Linked DNA regions of Homo sapiens. The protein of the gene in region 4 purifies or fractionates together with the protein of the main gene of each other region. This does not show direct contact. Each region holds a gene or a part of one and is shown on either strand. Other genes may lie near its edges.

Evidence for each region. The genes of interacting proteins can lie anywhere in the genome.
Region 1: the proteins of PROKR1 (region 4) and TMEM201 purify together in Homo sapiens (affinity purification with mass spectrometry; one large-scale study listed by BioGRID and IntAct). This does not show direct contact.
Region 2: the proteins of PROKR1 (region 4) and TNFRSF10B purify together in Homo sapiens (affinity purification with mass spectrometry; one large-scale study listed by BioGRID and IntAct). This does not show direct contact.
Region 3: the proteins of PROKR1 (region 4) and IPO13 purify together in Homo sapiens (affinity purification with mass spectrometry; one large-scale study listed by BioGRID and IntAct). This does not show direct contact.

Annotation. Positions count from the first base shown.
Region 1 is NC_000001.11:9,590,949-9,595,746, reverse strand, and holds part of TMEM201 (transmembrane protein 201), read right to left. Parts: intron 1-4,798. UniProt on the Homo sapiens protein: Critical regulator of angiogenesis and endothelial cell (EC) migration. Promotes the migration of endothelial cells, which is essential for angiogenesis.
Region 2 is NC_000008.11:23,058,696-23,063,493, forward strand, and holds part of TNFRSF10B (tumor necrosis factor receptor superfamily member 10B isoform 1 precursor), read right to left. Parts: intron 1-4,798. UniProt on the Homo sapiens protein: Receptor for the cytotoxic ligand TNFSF10/TRAIL. The adapter molecule FADD recruits caspase-8 to the activated receptor.
Region 3 is NC_000001.11:43,959,488-43,964,285, forward strand, and holds part of IPO13 (importin-13), read left to right. Parts: intron 1-761; coding exon 762-842; intron 843-1,388; coding exon 1,389-1,526; intron 1,527-1,678; coding exon 1,679-1,775; intron 1,776-4,781; coding exon 4,782-4,798. UniProt on the Homo sapiens protein: Functions in nuclear protein import as nuclear transport receptor. Serves as receptor for nuclear localization signals (NLS) in cargo substrates.
Region 4 is NC_000002.12:68,645,998-68,650,795, reverse strand, and holds part of PROKR1 (prokineticin receptor 1), read right to left. Parts: coding exon 4,490-4,798; intron 1-4,489. UniProt on the Homo sapiens protein: Receptor for prokineticin 1. Exclusively coupled to the G(q) subclass of heteromeric G proteins. Activation leads to mobilization of calcium, stimulation of phosphoinositide turnover and activation of p44/p42 mitogen-activated protein kinase.

The DNA.
Region 1 (4,798 bases), on a different chromosome or scaffold from region 4:
GCCCCAGAACAGCAGGAGGAACAAGGGCTCTGAAGGAGAGGAACGCAGACTAGGTACGGCTGCATCCACCCAGGACCAGACAGGGAGGCCACGGCCAACCTGGGCTTCTCAGTCTTCAAGGGGAGGAGGCCAGCTGGAGCCTCAGCAGATCCCTAGGCTCCAGTGCGGCCGCACGGGGACCCAGGGCCACCTGCTCCTGGTGGCCTGGGGCTCACACATGGAGCACAACAGGGGCCAGGGCTGGCCAAACCAGGGCTGACTGGGACCAGGTTCGAGGACCACCCCTCCCCCACGAGGTCCTTGATCCTGGGCTGCAGAAAGGGTGCGCCCCAGGGAGCCTCCAGATTGAAAGGGGCCTCCTGTGCTCCAGAGAGAGACAGTCCCAGGATGTGAGAGCCAAGGAGGCTGAGGGGAGGGAGCAAGTGACAGCTGCCCAGCCTGGGGCCAACCCTCTCTGGTGGAGAGGACAGTGGCCCTCGCTGGCTACACGTGTGGTGACAGGTGGGGCCTCGGGATAATCCCAGCCCAGACACTGGGGGATCTATGCTCTGGGCCCCCCTCTACCCACCTCATTGGTTGTGGGACACTGGGGGACTGGGGAGGGGTGGGCAGAGAGACCGCCACTGCCCAAAAAAGCCCCCCAGTTCCGGAAATCCAGGAACAATGTGGGTGACAGGCAGCAGCTGTGGGAGCCCTGGGGCCCCGGCTTTGCTGCTCCGACTCTCCACCTCTCCCCCAGGGGCCACCTCCAGCTCGAGGACACCGCTTGAGCCCCTGCCAGAGTGGGCAGCCACTCCCTGCACAGACGGCCCCCCGTCCACAGGACCAGAGAGCACGGCCCTCTGGCCTTTCATCCTGAGGCGCTGCTCAGAGAAAGGAGGACGGAGCCCCAGGAAGTTCCTGTACTCTCAGCCTCAGTGTCCACATCTGTGAAGTGGGGGCAACCACAGCACCCCCGGCTTCTGCATGCTGCAAGGACGCAGTGACACAAGACAGAAAGGTGCTGTGCTCTGCAAAGAGCCAGCTCTGTCGCTAACCCATCGGGCTGGCCAGGGGCCTGAGGGGGAGGCTGGGCCCTGGGAAGCAGGGCTCCCGCTTCTGACACTACTGCTGCTGCCCGGCCCTCCCCTCCACCCCCTTCTCCTGACCAGGGGCATATGAAGGGAGATGTGTGATCACCTGTCAGCTGGGGACAAAAGCACCTCCCTCACAAGGGACTGCTCGTGGGACGCACTTAACAGTGACTGGCCTAGAGTATGTACGCAAAAAAGCCAAGTTACATGGAGTGGGGGGAGGCTTGGGAGAGAAGGGGAGATGGGACCAGGCCCTGCGGGGAAGGCCCAGGGCCCACAGGGGCAGCTGGGATCTCCCCCAGCAGCCTCGGCCCACACCCTTCTCACCCCACACCCCCTGCCCCAGCACAGGCCCAAGCCCTCACAGAGGACAAGGACCGCTGCATCTTGTCAACAGCATGGAGACAGCGGGCAAGGCCTGCAGACCAGCGACGAAACGGAGCCAGCCAGCTGGGCAGGCAGTATGGCAACAGGCATGGCCTTGGAGAGCAGCTCTGCCTTCTAGGGCCGCAGTCTCATCCCTCACCTGTCAAAAGGGGCTGCTGAGCATCCCTGCCCCAGGAGAGGCCACTGTGAGGATCCTACAGGAGAATGCAGGGAGGCGCTCAGTGCTCGGCATTAGGACAGCGCCACCGGGCGCCGACTACATGAACAGCCAGGGAAGGAGACTCGCTCTGGGGCATGTGGAGACCTGCTCTGCTGCGGTGCCCGCATCTAGCACTCCCGGGCAACTAAGCACGTGGACTTCCCTGTGCTAATTACTAGCTGTTGTACAGGCTTCTTTGTAACTGTGCATGGGGGCGTGTCCTGATGGGTGAAGACCTGCTTGTGTGACCCCCCACCCCTGAGCCGGACAAGGCTCTGCACCCAACTGACTTTGGGTGACAGGCTTCCTATCCCCACGGAAGGCCCCTCAGCTCTCTTACCCTGTTTGAAAAGGAAGGTCAACCCTTGAGCCTGCCTAGGGGACCAATGACAGCTGAGCAGGGGCTGTGGCTTCTGTCCAGGGTGCCTGCCATGAAGCCCCGCCCACCCCAGGAAGTCATGTTTCCATTCTGAATCTCCTGCTCTGTTGCTAGGGAAATGGCTCCACTGATCTAGAATGAGGCGGCCCGGAAGAGGGGGGAGGCAAGGGATTAGCCCTTGTCCCTGGGGCCAGCAGCTCTAACTCCTGTCACTCTCAGCCCTGGGTAATCCCTGCTAGAGTTGGGGGTGGGCTCTCTGGTGGCCAGAGCAGCTGCCACCCACTTTGGCCAGGCGGGCCCTACCTGCCAGGGGGTCCTCTCCCACAGTGCCTTTGGGGGTGAGCCCTGAAAGGTCCCAAGAGGCAGGTAGGCCAGGGGTCGATGGGGAGCTGGGCATGAATTGCAGGTCCCCCAGGCACCAGCACGGCGGCGTCAGACACATGACCACATGTGAAACACTGTCCACAGCTCGGACGAGGTCCCCACGCAGGTGGGGGAAGTCCTGGCCCCTAGCCTATGCTTGCCTCTGCCCGGCCTGTTGAGGCAGCATCTGGGTCAATCTCTTCTGAGCCAGCCTAGGCTGGACCCTGTTTTTGCTCTGGGAGAAGCCCCCAAGTTTCCCTGATAAACCCCTCAGCCCACTTCTCTTCTGCAAGCCAACAACCTCCGTCCTTAACTTGACTCTGGGACAAACCACAGTTGGTGGGCAAGGTTTGAGGTAACGTGACAGAATGTCCCTGCAACACAAGCAAGAGAGGAGCTCGGGCCTGGAGGGGCTGCCCCTGCCCACAACGGTTCCAGCTCTGGGGGGACAGCAGCTGGCCCTATGGGTCCCATTTGATGGGTGGACACGAGGGCCTGGAGGCCACTATCTCGGCTCCTGCTAGCTCGATGCCGAGCCCCTGGGAAGCCTGAGGAAGCCCGGAGGGAGATGGGTCCCTAAGAAAAAGCTAGGGCAGCTGCATGCTCTGTACCTGCCCCGTCCACAAGCCCAACATACACACTGAGGGAAAACAAGACGGGCACGTGTCCTTAATGATGACACCACTCCAGAGCCCTGAGCACGGACATGTATTGAAACAAAGCTCCTGCGGGATGCCTCACTATTCCCTGCAGGTGGGAGGGGCTCTGTTCTAGGTGCGAGCCCAGCGCTGGGTCCTCAGCCTAGGAAAGCACCAGGTAGGGGGAACCTGCTAGAGGGGGCACTGGATGGGGCTTGGTCCCTGCCCTGGGGAGCTCAGTGGTTGTAGCAGGCTGGCCAGCTCCCAGAGTCTCTGCCCAGCCCTGGGAAATCATCACCTCCTCAGACAGGGGCCTTAGCACATTGCTCAGGACCTGGGACACTGTGTGCTGGCCCCAGTGCGGGGTTGGAAAGACTGTAAGAGTCAGGTTCCCTCAGGGGCCAGGGAGCCAGAGGCCAGCCTCCCAAGCAGCTCCTCACCTGCACTTCCCGCTTAAGTGGGCAACACCGTGTTTCATTCAACCAGAAGGACCAGAGAAGAGGCCTCCTGGGCTTCAGCGACAGAAGCATCAAAATGCAACTCAGAACTTAGCACTGCCAGGGCCTCCAGCCCATCTCCAAGCAAAACATACTTGAATCCACAGCAGCAACTCCAACATCAGGATGGAAAACGCCCCAATCCACCATTCTAGGGTCGCTCCTGGTGCGAGCGGAACATCCCATCAGTTAAGCAAGCACCACCCTAGGCTGGCAGAGATGCAAACGTGAGCAAGACAAGAACGACGACCTCCCAGGGCAGCTGGTGACAGATACCACAGGACAGAGGCCAATAAGCGGGGCATCTGCGGTCGCCCTGAAGCACAGCTGTGCTCACCAGCAGGGCAGACGGCAGAGGGAGGGGACCACCCAACGTATGCCCGGGGTGCGGCGGTTGCTCAGGGAGAGTGCGCAGCAGCAGGAGAGTGAGTGGGAGGGGGGAGCCTGGAAACGGGAAGGGCCGTTACAGGGGACTCTGACTTCCAGAATGAGGCTCTGCTGCATATCCTCTGGGAGGCTGCATCCTCTTTGTCCCCAAACACTAGAAAGGAGACAATCCCAGTAAACACCAACAAAGCCCCGGAGGCGGGGCGGTGGTGTGTGCAGGGATGTGCTGGCAGAGCACGGATCCTGGGCATCGTTTGAAGAGGGCTGAGGACAGGCACCCGAGCAGCAGCGTCCAGGGGACAGGGAGGCCTAGGAAGCCACAGACTTCACGACGGCCTGGACACAGGGAAGTGAAACTGGGGCATCTGCCCCCCAACTGTGCCGACCGTGGTGGCTTCCCATAGGTGCAGAGAAGCAGCCAAGGGGCTCCATGAGCACCCAGAGGTTGAAGCTGGGCTGACAAGCTGAAGTTCTGGTGCGAGGCAGGGCCCTGCCATTTAACAGCCGGGTGATGTGGGGCAGGTAGCCCAACCTCCCCAAGCTTTGGTTTCCTCATCTGTAAAATGGGAGAACAGTAGAGCCCGCCCTGGCAGTTTCATGAGGAGACAGTGTGCTGTGCTTACAGCCATCAGCTGCTCCCATCAGTAACAACCATGGAAGCGAGAGGACTCCATGCGTGGGGAAGCCAGGGCGGGCCCTGACTGAGGCTGTGGGAGGACTCAGTCCTTCAGAGAAGCAGCCTCCTTCCCATGCGCCTCAGCCAGTCCTAAAGCACAAGGTGGGGCTGACCTGCCCACTCCCTCTACATCTTCCTCTCTGTCCATCTCTGTGCTGAGCCTGCAAACACCCACCCAGCCAAGTCGCCTTCCAAAAAC
Region 2 (4,798 bases), on a different chromosome or scaffold from region 4:
GGTGATCTTGAACTCCCAATCTCAGGTGATCTGCTCGCTTCACCCTCCCAAAGTGCTGGGATTACAGGTGTGAGCCGCCGTGCCCAGCTTGTGCATTGGCTTTTTAAATCAACAATATTTCCATTTTATGTGTAATTGTTATAGTGACTAAAATAAATGCTGTTTTTTTAAATCTAAAACTAAGGTAAATTATATATAACATGAAACTTATCTTTTAATCTTTTAAAATACATAGTTCAGTGACACTACATTTATTAATGTTGTTGTGCAATAATCACAACTATCCATCCTCAGAAGTTATTTCATCTTCCCATTCTTCCCTCCTTACAACCGCTGGCATCCAACATTCTACTGTTGGTTTTTATGAATTTGACTACATTAGGTACCTCAAGTGGAATCCTATTTCATTTGTCCTTTTATGAATGGCATTTTACTGAGCATGTCTTTAATGTTCATCCATTGTGTAGCATGTGCCAGTATTTCCTTCCTTTTCAAGGCTGAGTAATACTCCATTGTATGAATATACCACATTATCTATTGATCTGTCCAACTTGAGTTTCTTCCACTTTTTGGCTATTGTGAATAATACTGCTATAAACGTGGGTGTACAAATATCTGTTTGAAACCATGCTTTCAATTCTTTTGGACGTATACCTAGAAGTGGGAATGATGGATCATCTGCTAATCCTGTTTTTACTTTTGAGGAACTATCATACTGTTTTCCATAGTGGCTGCACCATTTTACATTCCCATTAACAGGGCACGAGGGTTCCAACTTCTCTACAAATTTGCTAATGCTTATTGTGTGTGTGTGTTGTTTTTGTTTTTTGAGACAGAGTCTCGTTCTGTCGCCCAGGCTGGAGTGCAGTGGTGCCATCTCAGCTCACTGCAAGCTCCGCCTCCTGGGTTCACGCCATTCTCCTGCCTCATCCTCCCAAGTAGCTGGGACTACAGGCGCCTGCCACCACGCCGGGCTAATTTTTTTGTATTTTTTTTTTAGTGGAGACGGGGTCTCACCATGTTAGCCAGGATGGTCTCAATCTCCTGACCTCGTGATCCGCCTGCCTTGGCCTCCCAAAGTGTGGGGATTACAGGCATGAGCCACCGCACCCGGCCTGTGTGTGTTTTTTATAATAGTCATCCTGATGGGTATAGGATGGTATCTCTGTCGTTTTGACCAGCAGTTCCCTAATGATTAGTGATTAAAGTATCTTTTCATATACTTATTGACCATTTGTATATTTGCTTTGGAGAAATGTTTATAAAAATCAGTTGCCCATTTTTAACTGGGTTGTTTTTGTTTTGTTAGATCGTAGGAATTCTTTATATATTTTAGATATTAAGCCCTTATCAGATATATAACTTAAAATATTTTCTCTCATTCTGTGGGTTTTGCCTTTTTATCCAGTTAATAGTATCTTTTGATTCACAAGAGTTACTGATTTTCAAGAAGTCCAAAATGTTTATTTTTTCTTTTGTTGCCTATGTCCATGGTGTCACATCCAAGAAATTATTGCCAAATCCAATGTCACAGAATTTTTATCCTATATTTTCTTTCAAGAGTTCTATAGCTTTAGCACTTACATTTACATCTTTTATTTGTTTTTAGCTATTTTTTAAATACAATGTTAGGCTAAGGTTCACTTCATTCTTTTGAATGTGGATATCCGGTTCTCCTAGCCCCCTTCATTGAAAAGACGGCCCTTTCCTCCATTCAACAGTCTTGGCATCCTTGTGAAAAATAATTTGGCCATATATGTGAGTGTTTATTTCTGGCTCCTCTATTCTATTCCACTGATCGATTTATCTGCTTTTATGTCAGTACCATCCTGTTTTGATTACTGCAGCTTTGTAGGAAGTTTTGAAAATCAGGAAGTGTGAATCCTACTACATTTTTATTCATTTTCAAGATTGTTTTGGATATTCTGGTCCCTAGAAATTCCATATGAATTTTAGGATACATTTTTTCATTTCTGCAAAAATGTCCTTGGGATTTTGATAGAGATTACATTGAATGTATAGATCACTTTAGGAAATGTTGACATAATTAGTCTTATAATTCATAATCATGGCATATCTTTCCATTTATTTTTGTATTCTTTAATTACTTTCAGTAATGTTTTATAGTTTTCATTGTACTAGTCTTCCACCTCCTTGGTGAGTTTACTCCTATTTTATTATTTTTGATACTATTGTAAATGGATTTTTTCCTAATTTCTTTTTTTGAATTGTTCATTGGTAGTGTATAGAAATGCAATTGACTTTTCCAGTTGATTTTGTATTCCGCTTCTTTGATGAATTCATTTTAGTACTACTAAATAAAAATTAAAAACACAGTTTAGATATACCCCACGGCAATTACCCATAACCATGTAGCCAAAACTTAAGACATCCTGATATCCCTGAAACATTAGCTATAATCATAAAAAATCCCACAAAATATAAGTTTTACACCTTCATCATGACATAATATGGTTCAGTGAAGTTAAATCAAGCAGCTATAGAAAAATCAGCTTAAACAGCTCTGATTGCCTTTAAAAAGAATATAAATTTATAAGTCAATCATGAAATTGTCAAAATACATCCTCCTTTATAGCCTGTACTATACCTGCTGTAAGGCAAGTTTCTTACCACTTGGTTTGAAATCTCCCAGATTGCAATCTGTACTGTCTTTTACTGAACAACAATAAATTTCAAAATTTTAAAAATTTAATATTATTTTATTTTTGGCAGTTTAATTTTTTGTGAAATCTTTTGGATTTTTTACCAGTAAGATCATATCATCTGAAAACACAGATTATTTTACTTTTTCCTTTACAGTCCAGATGCTCTTATTTCTTTTTCTTGCCTGTTTTGGCTAGAACTTCCAGTACTATGCTGAGTGGCAAAGGTGGGTAGATATCCTTATGTTGTTCTTAATCTTAAAGGAAAAGCTTTCCGTCTTTCAACACTGAGTATGATGTTAGCTGTGGGGTTTTCTTACATGGCTTTTATGATGTTGTGGAAGTTTTCTTCTATTCTTAGTTTGCTGGGTGTTTTCATCATGAAAGGGCTTTGAATTTTATCAGAGGCTTTCCCTGTATCAACTCAGATGATCATGTGTCTTTTTCCCCCTTCATTCTATTAATGCAATGTATTACATTGTTCAGTTTTCATTTGTTCAAACATTCTTGCATTCCGGAAATAAATCCAACTTGGTCATGGTGTATAATCCATCTAAGGTACTGTTGAATTCTCTCTGATAGTATTTTGTTGAAGATTTTTGCATCAGTTAGGGATACTGGGATATAGCTTTATTTTCTTGTAATATCTTTATCTGCTTGGGTATCAGAGCAATGCTGGCCTTACAGAAAGAGTCAAGAAAGGTTCCCTTCTCTTCAAGTTTTTGAAAGAGTTTGAGAAGTAGTGGTATTAGCTCTTCATTAAAAGCTTGTTAGAATTCACTAGTGAATTCTGTCAGTTTAATTAATAGTATTGAAGAATCAATGTTGGTTTTGTGGATTTTCTCTATGGTTTTTCTTTTTTCTTTTTCTTTCTTTCTTTGAGACAGAGTCTCACTCTGTTGCCCAGGCTGGAGTGCAGTGATGTGATCTTGGCTCACTGCAACCTACATCTCCGGGGCTCAAGTGATCCTCCCACCTCAGCCTCCCGAGTAACTGGGATCACAGGTGTGCTCCCCCGGGCCAGGCTGCTTTTTATATTTTTTGTAGAGACAGGGTTTTGCCATATCCAGGCTGGTCTCAAACTCCTGGCTTCAAGCAATCCTCCTGTCTTGGCCTCGCAAAGTGCTGGGATTATAGGCGTGAGCCATCACATCCGGCCTCTACTGTTTTTCTATTCTCTGTTTTATTTATTTCTCTTCTAATAATTATTTCCTTTATAATGCTAACTCTAGGTTTGGTTCATTCTTTTTCTAATTCCTACATTTGTAAACTTAGCTCGTTGATTTAAGATCCTTCTTCTTTTTTAATTAAACCATTTCTGGCTATAAATATCATAGATGGAATCAGATACTATATATGCTTTTCTGTCTGGTTTCTTTAACTCAGCATAATTATTTTGAAATTCGGTCATATTTTCATATGCATCAGTACTCCATTCCTTTTCATTACTGAGTTGTATGGCAGAATTAATATGGTAATATTATAAAATGTAGGAGACTTGAAATAATACAGATTGATTCATCTCCACTACTCATTCTTTCTGCTATAGTTGTCTCAGGCATGTTCATATGTTACAAACCCTACAAAGTGTTATATTACTTGATAGTGAATATTTTCAAGAAATTAAGAGGAAATAATCATTCTTTATATGTGCATTCATATTTCTATTCCTGATGATCTTCCTTCTTTCCTTAAGATCCATGTTCCCAGCCAGGCAAGGTGGCTCATGCCTGTAATCCCAGCACTTTGGGAGGCCAAGGCGGTGGATCTCCTGAGGTCAGTAGTTTGAGACTGGCCTGGCCAACATGGTGAAACCCGGTCTCTACTAAAAATACAAAAATTAGCTGGGTGTGGTGGCAAGCGCCTGTAATCCCAGCTGTTCAGGAGGCTGAGGCAGGAGAATCGCTTGAACCCAGGAGGCAGAGGTTGCAGTGAGCCGAGATTGCGCCATTGCACTCCAGCCTGGGCAGCAACAGTGAAACTGTCTCAAAAAAAAAAAAAAAAATCCATGTTTCCATTTCATTTCATCTCTATTCAGATTGAAATCTTTTAGCATTTTGTGTACTGCAGGTCTATGAGCAATGACGTGCCCATACTGTCTCCAATAGCACATTCAGGTTCCTAATTCTTAAAGC
Region 3 (4,798 bases), on a different chromosome or scaffold from region 4:
TCTGGCTTACTCAATTCATAGAACTGTGCTGGATAGTAGATGTGGTCTTAAGTGAAGGTAGTTTGCATATTGTAAAGTTCTTTACAAATATAAGGGACTGCTTTAGTCGTTGTTCCCAGAACTCCCTCCCAGATTTCTCCAGGAGAAAAGGAAGCCATAGGCATCCTGGCCTCTCTGCTTAACTCCCCAACCCAGTTTCAGTTAGCCTCTTGGCTTTAGACCACCCCTGGGCCACTGTCATCCCACAGAGCTGCTTCTTTACATGGTAGTCATCATCCTGCCTTTCCTCACCTCCCAGGACCTCAGTCTGCTCTCTGCTCCTCCATAAGCTGGGAGAGCAGCTTAAGCCTGCATCTGTGCATTCCTTGGGGCTCCCTACCTCAAGCCTATTTGGAGGAGATAGCATCTCCACTTCTTCAGAGGCTAGCCCATAGCCTTGGTTTTACAGAGCAGAGATAGGGAGAGATTTTTTTTTAAGTTTACAAAGTTTTTGTAACCTTATGAAGCACTTGTGATATCTCTGCTTTGCAGTTTGAGGCTTCCTTTGAGATGATCCCTAGAATTCAGGAAATACTCCTTTTTCATTCATGAGAGAGTTCAGCAAACCACTTCTTCCCCCAGGGGTCCCATGCCCTGGGTCCTCAATGTGTGTTCTGGGGTAATAGGTCTGAACTGCTCCCCTCCTCCCTGCCACCAAGTCCTCCTCAAGTGGGTCACAGTGATGGATAGCAGAAGCGCCTCACTTCTTCCTGTGCCTTCAGGTGGTGGTGGTGCTGCAGCAGGTCTTCCAGCTTATCCAGAAGGTGCTGAGCAAATGGTTGAATGATGCCCAGGTTGTGGAGGTGAGCCCTGACCCTTGCCCTCCGCTCCCATAGTGACTGCTCAGAGGTGTAGCAGGGTAAGATGTTACTGCCACACTTCAGCTTACAATGGTTTGGAGAAAACAAGGGAGGTGAATCCTGCCCCATAGAGATAAGGAATCTTTTGGGAAGACATTTAGAACTCCCCAATATCATGAGAAGTGCTTAACGTAAGGACTCTAATATTAGGGTCGAGTGACAGTCAGGCATCTGTTTTAGCACCAAAGACCTGCCTTTGGTCCCTTTTCAATTCAGGTTTTTGTTGCTGTTGCTGCTCCCTGAGAGGAAATGTTAGAGATGTAAGTCGCAGGAGTTAAGTTCCACAGTTACATCCTGTGCCCCTCAGTGAAGGGCCTTTGCCCCCTGCCTTTCAGGGTGAGGGTCAGACTTGCTTACCTTCCTTGGTTTGCAGGGCCAGGCAAGGCTTATAGGTAAGGGCCCAATCGTAGGCCCCCTCTGTGCAGGGCTTCAGCGCTGTTCCAGCCAGTCATGACCTGCTGACCAGGGCCCCTTTGCTTTCTTCCCAAGGCGGTGTGCGCTATCTTTGAGAAGTCTGTTAAGACGCTGCTGGATGACTTTGCCCCCATGGTGCCACAGCTGTGTGAGATGCTGGGTCGGATGTACAGCACCATCCCCCAGGCCTCTGCTCTTGACCTCACTCGACAGGTGGGCCTTCTGGTTGGGGCAGAGATCCTGACCCTGGGTGGGGGTGGGTCAGATGGCTGCCGTGGCTGGGGTCCCCACTTGCATTCCAGGGATATTGCCATGTCCTGGTGAGACTGGGTCTCAGCTGACCAGCATTCCCTGCTTTCTCGTAGCTGGTCCACATCTTTGCTCATGAGCCTGCCCACTTTCCCCCAATTGAGGCCCTCTTCCTGCTCGTCACCTCCGTCACACTCACTCTCTTCCAGCAAGGTAGGTCCTGACCGGGGTCTCTGCTGCTGCTGCCACTGCCACTGCCTCTGCTTCCCCAAATGGGGAGCCAAAGCTGCCCACTCTGTTCTTCTCTGTCCCCTGAGTCACACGTGGGACTTGATGGGAAACCTGTGAGATCAAGCACAACACCTTATAAATAGTTGAAACTTTAGGTTGAAGTGGATAAGAGGGTGAATGATGTCTTCTGCTGGCCTGCTGGGCTCAGGGCCAGTCTGGATATGGAAGAAGGAAGTGGGGGTGGGAGGTGGGCAGAGGCTCTGAGGGGCTTGGGGCACTAGGCTGGCTCCTTTACTTTGGGATATAATGAAAAGTGGAAAGAGCACGGGCTTTTGAAGTCAGCTAGACCTAGATTCTAAGTTCATCACCACCAACTAGTTGTGTGTCCTTGGGCAAGTCACTTACCTTTGCTGGGCCTTCATTTCCATATCTGTGAAACGGAGATAACATATACTTGAAATGATTGTTTACAGGTATTAAAGTCACATCTTCTGGGCCCTTGGCTCAGGGGCTTTTGCACAGTGAAGTACTCAGAGACTGTTGGTTCCTTTCCCTGCATCAAGGCTTAGTACTTTCTAGGCCAGAAGTCAAGTACCTTTGGCTGTGGTCCTAGCCCTCTACTCACTGTGGCCCTTTGCCTGAGAGAGTTGGCAGCAGGGGCTTCATTCAGGCTTCTCGTGTTGTCTAATCCAGGCTTCCAGTTTGGAGAAACAAAAACAAAAAAACAGCACTGCTCAGCTAGCCTCATGAGCCTTGCCTGGATTCATGGTCACAGGTTTGAGGCTCACCAGGGGTCTCGGTTGGTGCCCAGAGTACTCGCAGCTCATATCCTCAGTGCCTGGTCTCATGATCCTGGCCTCTGTTTCTGTGGGCCATGGAGTAGGTCCAAACTGGGGAGAAAACTGAACCAGAAACCTGGTGTGGTCATCCTCAACTCCACCTCTCCCAACTCCCTGTACCCAATCTGGGACAAGCCCCATTGATCCTGACTCCTGATTCTCTCTCGGTTGGTCCACTTCTACCCACCTCCGTGGCCACTGCCTCAGTTTAGGGTCTCACCTGGATTATCAGCAACCTTCTAGTGGGTTTTCTTGGCATCTCCCCTTCTCTCCAATCTGTTCTGCACACTGCAGCTATAATCTTCATAAAAACACAAATCTGAGCATTTGTCATCCCGGGCTTAAAACCCTTTCATTGTTCCCATTGCCCTCAGCTTATTGTTCCATTCCCACCCACATGACAAGGCTCTGGCATGCCTCTAATGTCCTCTCCTGCCAATGTCCTCATGACTCCAACATTTCAGCCACACTGCCTCTTCCTTACCGTGTCCCATTTGATCCCTGTGCCTTGCTCCTCTGACTGGAATGTCCTATGCCCTTTACTGGGTGAACTCTCACTCCTTCATGCCTTAGAAAGGAGGAAGACTGCATCACTTCTCAGAGTAATTTCTCTCTGAGGCAGAATTGGGTGCTTCTAACTGTACTGAAACTGCATCCCATACACACTGCTGACACAGCACTGATCACACACAATAATCAGCTTTCATGTCTGTCTCTCTTACTAGACTTAAGCCCCTCAAGGGTAGGGTTGAGTTTCTTCTCTCTGCATCCCCAGTGCCCAGAATGAGGCCAGAATACAGCAGGCCACAGACACTGTTAAATAAAGGAGGGGGAGGGCTCCCTGCCCTTGGAACCTTTCCTTCTCATTTTCTGGCCCACCTCTAGCAGGGTGGCTGCTGAATATCAAACCTGCATGGTGCACACTGGGCCTCACTTTCTAGGACTTAAATAACTCAGGGTTCAGATACCAAAGGGACAGACTTTATTGGTGACTCTTCATAGCCTAGAGAAGGAAGCAGGGCAGAGATTATCTGCTTTACAGATGGGGAAACTGAGCATTTGTGGCTTGCGCAAGATCACACAGCTACTTAGTGGTGTCTTAGGCAGATGGTTTTGTACCACATCCTCCTGAGAGTGGAGAAGCCTGGGTAGGAGCTCCAGGTGCATGCCATATTCTTGCCTCAGGAATGATCAGAACTGGAGGCAGCAGTGTCCAACATCATATACGTTGGGCTTGTTGGTTGTCTCGCTGGACAGGATGGCTCCCATACCTGTTATGCCATCCCAATCTTAGCCATTCCTTCCTCGGGCTCTGCCTTCCCACTGGACCATAGGATGACATGTTTCTTGTTTCCCTGTTTCTTGGCATGTCCAGATGATGGGAACTAGTCCTCAGCCCTGAGCTTGGCTCTCTGCAGAGTCCATGTCCATGTGGAGGAGGTTTGCTGGGGTGGGGCTCTTGTTTTTGGCCTTATGATACTGTTTCCTCCTCTGGGCCCTGCCAGTGACTTGCCAGGCCATCTCCAGAGCATGCTGGGCACTGCCCTACCTAAGCAAGAGTCCTGTGGTTTAAGTGGACTGAATAGATTATTTTCCTTTGCCAGACCAAGAGCCCTAAGGCCATTGAAGTGAGGTGGCACTTACTCAGGCTCTGATGCCCTGGCCTTTCTAGGGCCCTCAGATAAACCTCAAAAGGAGATACCAAGGACTGACTCCCCCACCCCCCCACCGCCATCCCAGCTTTCCTCTTCAATGACTGGCTGATGGGAGGTATGTGCTAGGAGCAGTGTAGGGCTACCCCAACCTGCCAGAGGCCACAGTAAGTGTGGTGGCCGTTTCTTCAGCTATATGGAGTCCAGAATTGCTCAAGTACCAAGGGAACATGAGGGGATGGCCTGAGGAGGAGTGGGGAGTAGGCGGAAGGCCCCTTGGAGGGAGCTGGGGCAGGCCCGTCCTTCACTTTGCCGTCTCTTTCTGTTGGGCTTCTCCCAGTTCATGGTTTTTGTATGTTTTGTTTCTTTATCTTGCTTCCTGCTGCTCATGTGCCCCCACGCTGTCTCCCTGCAGGCTCTCAGTCCCACATAACTATATGAGGTTGAGTTGCTGTTTGTATAATTTTTTCTTAAGTTCCATCTTTATTATATTTTAGGGCCCAGGGATCATCCT
Region 4 (4,798 bases):
CGGCACAAAATGATCTCACCCTTCTCTAAATGTTATTTAAAATTTATCCTTTACTTATTCTTTAACTGTTTTGTAAGTGTTAGTTCTCCCTGGTCCCACCCTACCCCCAACTCTAGATGGTCAGCCCCCCAAGAGCTGTGATTATGTCTTACTTCTTTTATAACCTTTTACTCTCTGTGAATTCTGAGTACCTAACAGGATTTTGGTGCAACTTCACCCTCATTGAGTGCCTAGCGCTGGGTGAATAGACATGTAAAAAGCTGGCTGGACACAGTGGCTCACACCTGTAATCCCAACACTTTGGGAGGTCGGGGCACAATAATTACTTGAGACTAGTTCAAGACTAGCCTGGGCAGCATAGCAAGATCTCATCTCTAAAAAAATTTATTTTTAATATATAAAAAGCCATGGGGACAGTTCTCAGAAAGATTGCAACTATTTTTGGGAAAACAGGACATAAATATGTTTAACCATGAGACTGGGAAGCAGTCTGGGGCTAGATAATAAAAGTTTGGAAGAACAGGTGAAAGAGTTTGAGCCATACTTTGTAGACAATGGAGTTATTAGAGGTCTTTTTTTTTTATACTTTAAGTTTTAGGGTACATGTGCACATTGTGCAGGTTAGTTACATATGTATACATGTGCCATGCTGGTGCACTGCACCCACTAACTCGTCATCTAGCATTAGGTATATCTCCCAATGCTATCCCTCCCCCCTCCCCCCACCCCACAACAGTCCCCAGAGTGTGATATTCCCCTTCCTGTGTCCATGTGATCTCATTGTTCAATTCCCACCTATGAGTGAGAATATGCGGTGTTTGGTTTTTTGTTTTTAAGCAGGAGAGTGGAGACACGTACAAGACAGAAGATTAATTTGGCTGCAGCCTTGCTTACTTCCCTCGGGCCACATGGAGGCTTCTCTCTGTTCCTCTGTTTGTAGAACCCATCTGGTTTGTTCCTGCCTCTGGGCCTTTTCACTTACAATCCCCCTTGTCTGGGATGCTTGCTCCCTGTCTTCCCAAGGCAGGCTCTTTCCCCCTGTGTCATTCAGAAGCCAGTTCAAAGGCCTCTCCTCGGAGACCCTTCTCTTGACTACTCACCTAGAATAGGTCCCACCCTCAGCCACCCTCGACATTTTACCTGTGTACTTCTTTTGTTCAGAGTATTTCTTGCTTCTGAAATTACCTTCCTTTTGTGTTTGCCTGACTGGATCTCTCTCCATCCTTTGGTTATAAGCTCCAGGAAAGCAAGGAGTTTTTTTTGTCTTATTCACTGTCGTATCTCCAGTGCTTGCAATAGCATCTGTCACATCACAGTTACTCTATAAAAATGGATTGTTTAAATGAATGAATGAATGAAAGTTTAGGATGGATTGTCAGGGGAGTAGCGTTGACAGATGGGCAGATCCAAGAAACACTGAAGGCAGGAAGACCAAGAGGAGACTAGGATACCAGCCCTGAATGAACAAACGGGTATTGCCAAGACCTGGAGGTTGAATGAATGCTGGTAAAGAAGGGAGAGCAGCCAGGACAAAGGAGACTTTCTTCTAGGTTAGATGCCTCGGAGAACAATGGAACCAATAATATAGACAAATACAAGCAGGTAGATGATAAATAGTTCTGTTCTGGCATTTTGTAAAAATCTTGTATTTTTTTTAAATCACATCATAAAAACAATAATTTCAATGAAAGCAAAAAGGTTAGTGTGTCAGAAATGTTCATTAGTTTACCTGCTTTTTTGTTGTAGACATTCCTATAAGGGTTAATTTAAGAATTATCATATCCACTGTTTATTTATTGCTTACTGTTTTGAATATTGTTCTAAGAAATTAAATATATTTATTTCATTCAATCCTCAAAGCAACCCAATACAATAGGCTTTCTTTTTATCCTCATTTTGTAGGCGAGAAAACTGAGGCAGAGAGAGGTCAAATAACTAACATAATACCCAACACACAATACAGCTGGTACTTAAACCCAGGCAGAATAACTGCCAACATGGCTACAGAAATTTCATTAAGCAAAAATAAAGACATTTTTACAACTAAGTAGATCTGTTATAAACCAAGATAAAAATTAGTTGCTCCCAACTGATCAAATCCTGAACAACACGTGAGACCAGAGAAAAATTAATGATTCCTAGACCACAATTAGATGGTAACAACACATACAAATAAAAATAATTGCAGCAAAGATCACAAACATCAATAAAAGAATGGGCATTGGTGCAGCCATTCATCCACCAAGACCATTGGGCAGCCCTGTGAAGGCACATGGTGCTTTCCTTGAGGTCTGGGTACAAGCTTCCTATCATAACCCCACTCAACCATAGAAGCTCCCACGGTGCAAAGCATTTTTTCTAATTCATCTTTCTTATTGTATCTAATTTCCTTTGTGTAAACTCACACTGCAAGAGAAATGCTTGCAGTATTTCAGACAAGCTCTGTTTGGTATGAAAGGAGGTTATAAGCTTGAAGAAGTTCAGTAGATGGAGACTGACTGATTGACATAGATATCACTCTTACATGTTCCAAATAACCCAATGCCCCTTAGTGTATCCTGGCTTCCTTTCCCCTTGAAGCTACTTCCTCCTACCATTGTTACTCCGTTCAAGTGGTAAAATGGATCTCATCCGGGGAGTAGGGTCCCACTCCACAGGAGGCACCCTACCCTGCTTTTAGTAGCTGAGCACATGTAGTTTCTCGCTAGTATGAAACTTCAGGAAATGACTCTGTATGCTTTGTCCTGTTCATGGGCTAAGAGAGAAGGTGGCGGCTTCTACTTTCAAAAAAGTTCAGAGACAAAGTCCCTGGAGCTCTTCCTTGGCAGCTTTGAAAGGAACCTACGAAGTAGATACTCTACTTGACTGCTCCCCTCCTGCTCCTTCAGTGGGTTCATGCGGGGTCCTTGTCCAGGTAAATGAAAAGCTGCAGGGCTCTTTGATTCAGTGGAGGGAATTTGGCCTCCAGGTAAATGAAAAGCTGCAGGGCTCTGTGATTCAGTGGAGGGAATTTGGCCAAGAAGAAGTAGCACTCTGCAAGGATCTACGGGGACAGACCAAGGGCTATGTAAGCTGCTAACTTCCTGATGTCCTTCCCTAGAGAAGGGAGGCAGAGTTTCCACCCCTCAGCGGTTTTATAGACAGAGGTTCCTTGGTAACCCCCTTTTTTCAGGTTATCCTTTTCGGTCATCCCACCCCTGGTCGCCCTGCCTACGGTCTCAGAAAACAAGCTCTCTTAGCTGTGCTCCTCCCTAGAACACTGTCCTGACTGTGAGGGCCAGGTCAAACCCCCTCAGATCCTTGAGGCCAGAGAACAGGGAGAGCATGTATGCCTCAGGCTCTCTGGGTTAAAGGAGAGAGACAGGCTGTTCAGATCCAAGTACACAGAAGCCTGATTTGATCCTCAGGATAATTGTCTCTAGACTGTAACCAGGTGCTTTGTAATGACAGTCCAGCTGTGGGCAGAGGAGCTAGCAAAGATTGTCCCCCGAGGAACAAAGACCAGCCTGGCCCATTAGCACAAGTTTACACTAAAGGAAGAGACTAAGTTGAAGAAAGATATGCAGAGGCTGCTCTTACTGATTTTATTTGCGATCACCAGAAACAGGTCTTCTGCACTATCTGTGCAAATGGACTAAAAGGTGCAAAGTGATTAATGCAACAACAAAAAGTAAATAAACATATGTTCCCTTTTTTTTCAAAACAAATCCCTCAATCTTTTTATTTTTATTTATTTATTTATTTTTTAGAGACAAGGTCTCCCTCTGTCACCCAGGCTGGAGCACAGTGGCATGAACATAGCTCACTGCAGCCTGGAATTCCTGGGCTCAAGTGATCCTCCTGCCTCAGCCTCTCAACTAGCTAGGACTACAGGCACACACCACCACGCTCAGCTAATTTTTTAATTTTTTCAAAAGGTGAGGTCTGGATATGTTGCCCATGCTGGTCTCGAACTCCTGGCCTCAAATGCTCCTCCTATCTCGGCCTCCCAAATTGCTGGGATTATAGGCTTGAACTGTTTACCACAGCCAGTCATAAATCCTTGAATCTTATTTAAAAACAGATGATGCTAGAAGGTCATATTTTAGTAGAGGAAGTCTTGATGAGATAGAAACCTCCTTCAAGATTTCCACATTGACTCAAGAGGTAACTGCCTGACGCTTAAAGTTTCCCTCGATATCTCCTCTTACCTGTCTACTCTAGACCTTGAAAGGTGTAATATCTAGGAAAACATCCATAGCAAGGGAGATCAAAAGCTTCCCATCACCCAACTCTAGAGGGCTCTGCTGTCTTCTGTCTGAACAAAGCTGGAAAAGGAGAACTCTTCTCACTGTCAGTCAATGGGCAAGCTTTTGAGTCCCCCATGCAACCACATCTAGGGGGAATAGAGACACCTCTCATCAATCTGCAACTGCAGTACAGGAGGGGGCAATTCCAATGCCCCTTCCTCCCTGACCGCCTTTGTTGTCCCCACTGCTGCTGCACTCACCTGTCAATGGCGATGGCCAGCAGGGCATTGGTGGAGACATAGAGAGAGACAGTGCGCAGGTAGTTGACAGAGGTGCACAGGACGTGGCCGTGCTCCCAGGAGAGCTGGCGCACCACATAGTAGTCCATCTCAAAGGGGCAGCAGACAATGGCCACCAGGAAGTCAGAGATGGCCAGGTTGGCGATGAGCAGGTTGGTGAGGTTGCGCAGTTTCTTGTAGCGGACCAGGGCAGCGATAAAGATGAAGTTTCCAATGCCGCAGACCAGCATGATGCCCACCAGGGCCATCCCAATGACAATCTTGGCAGCA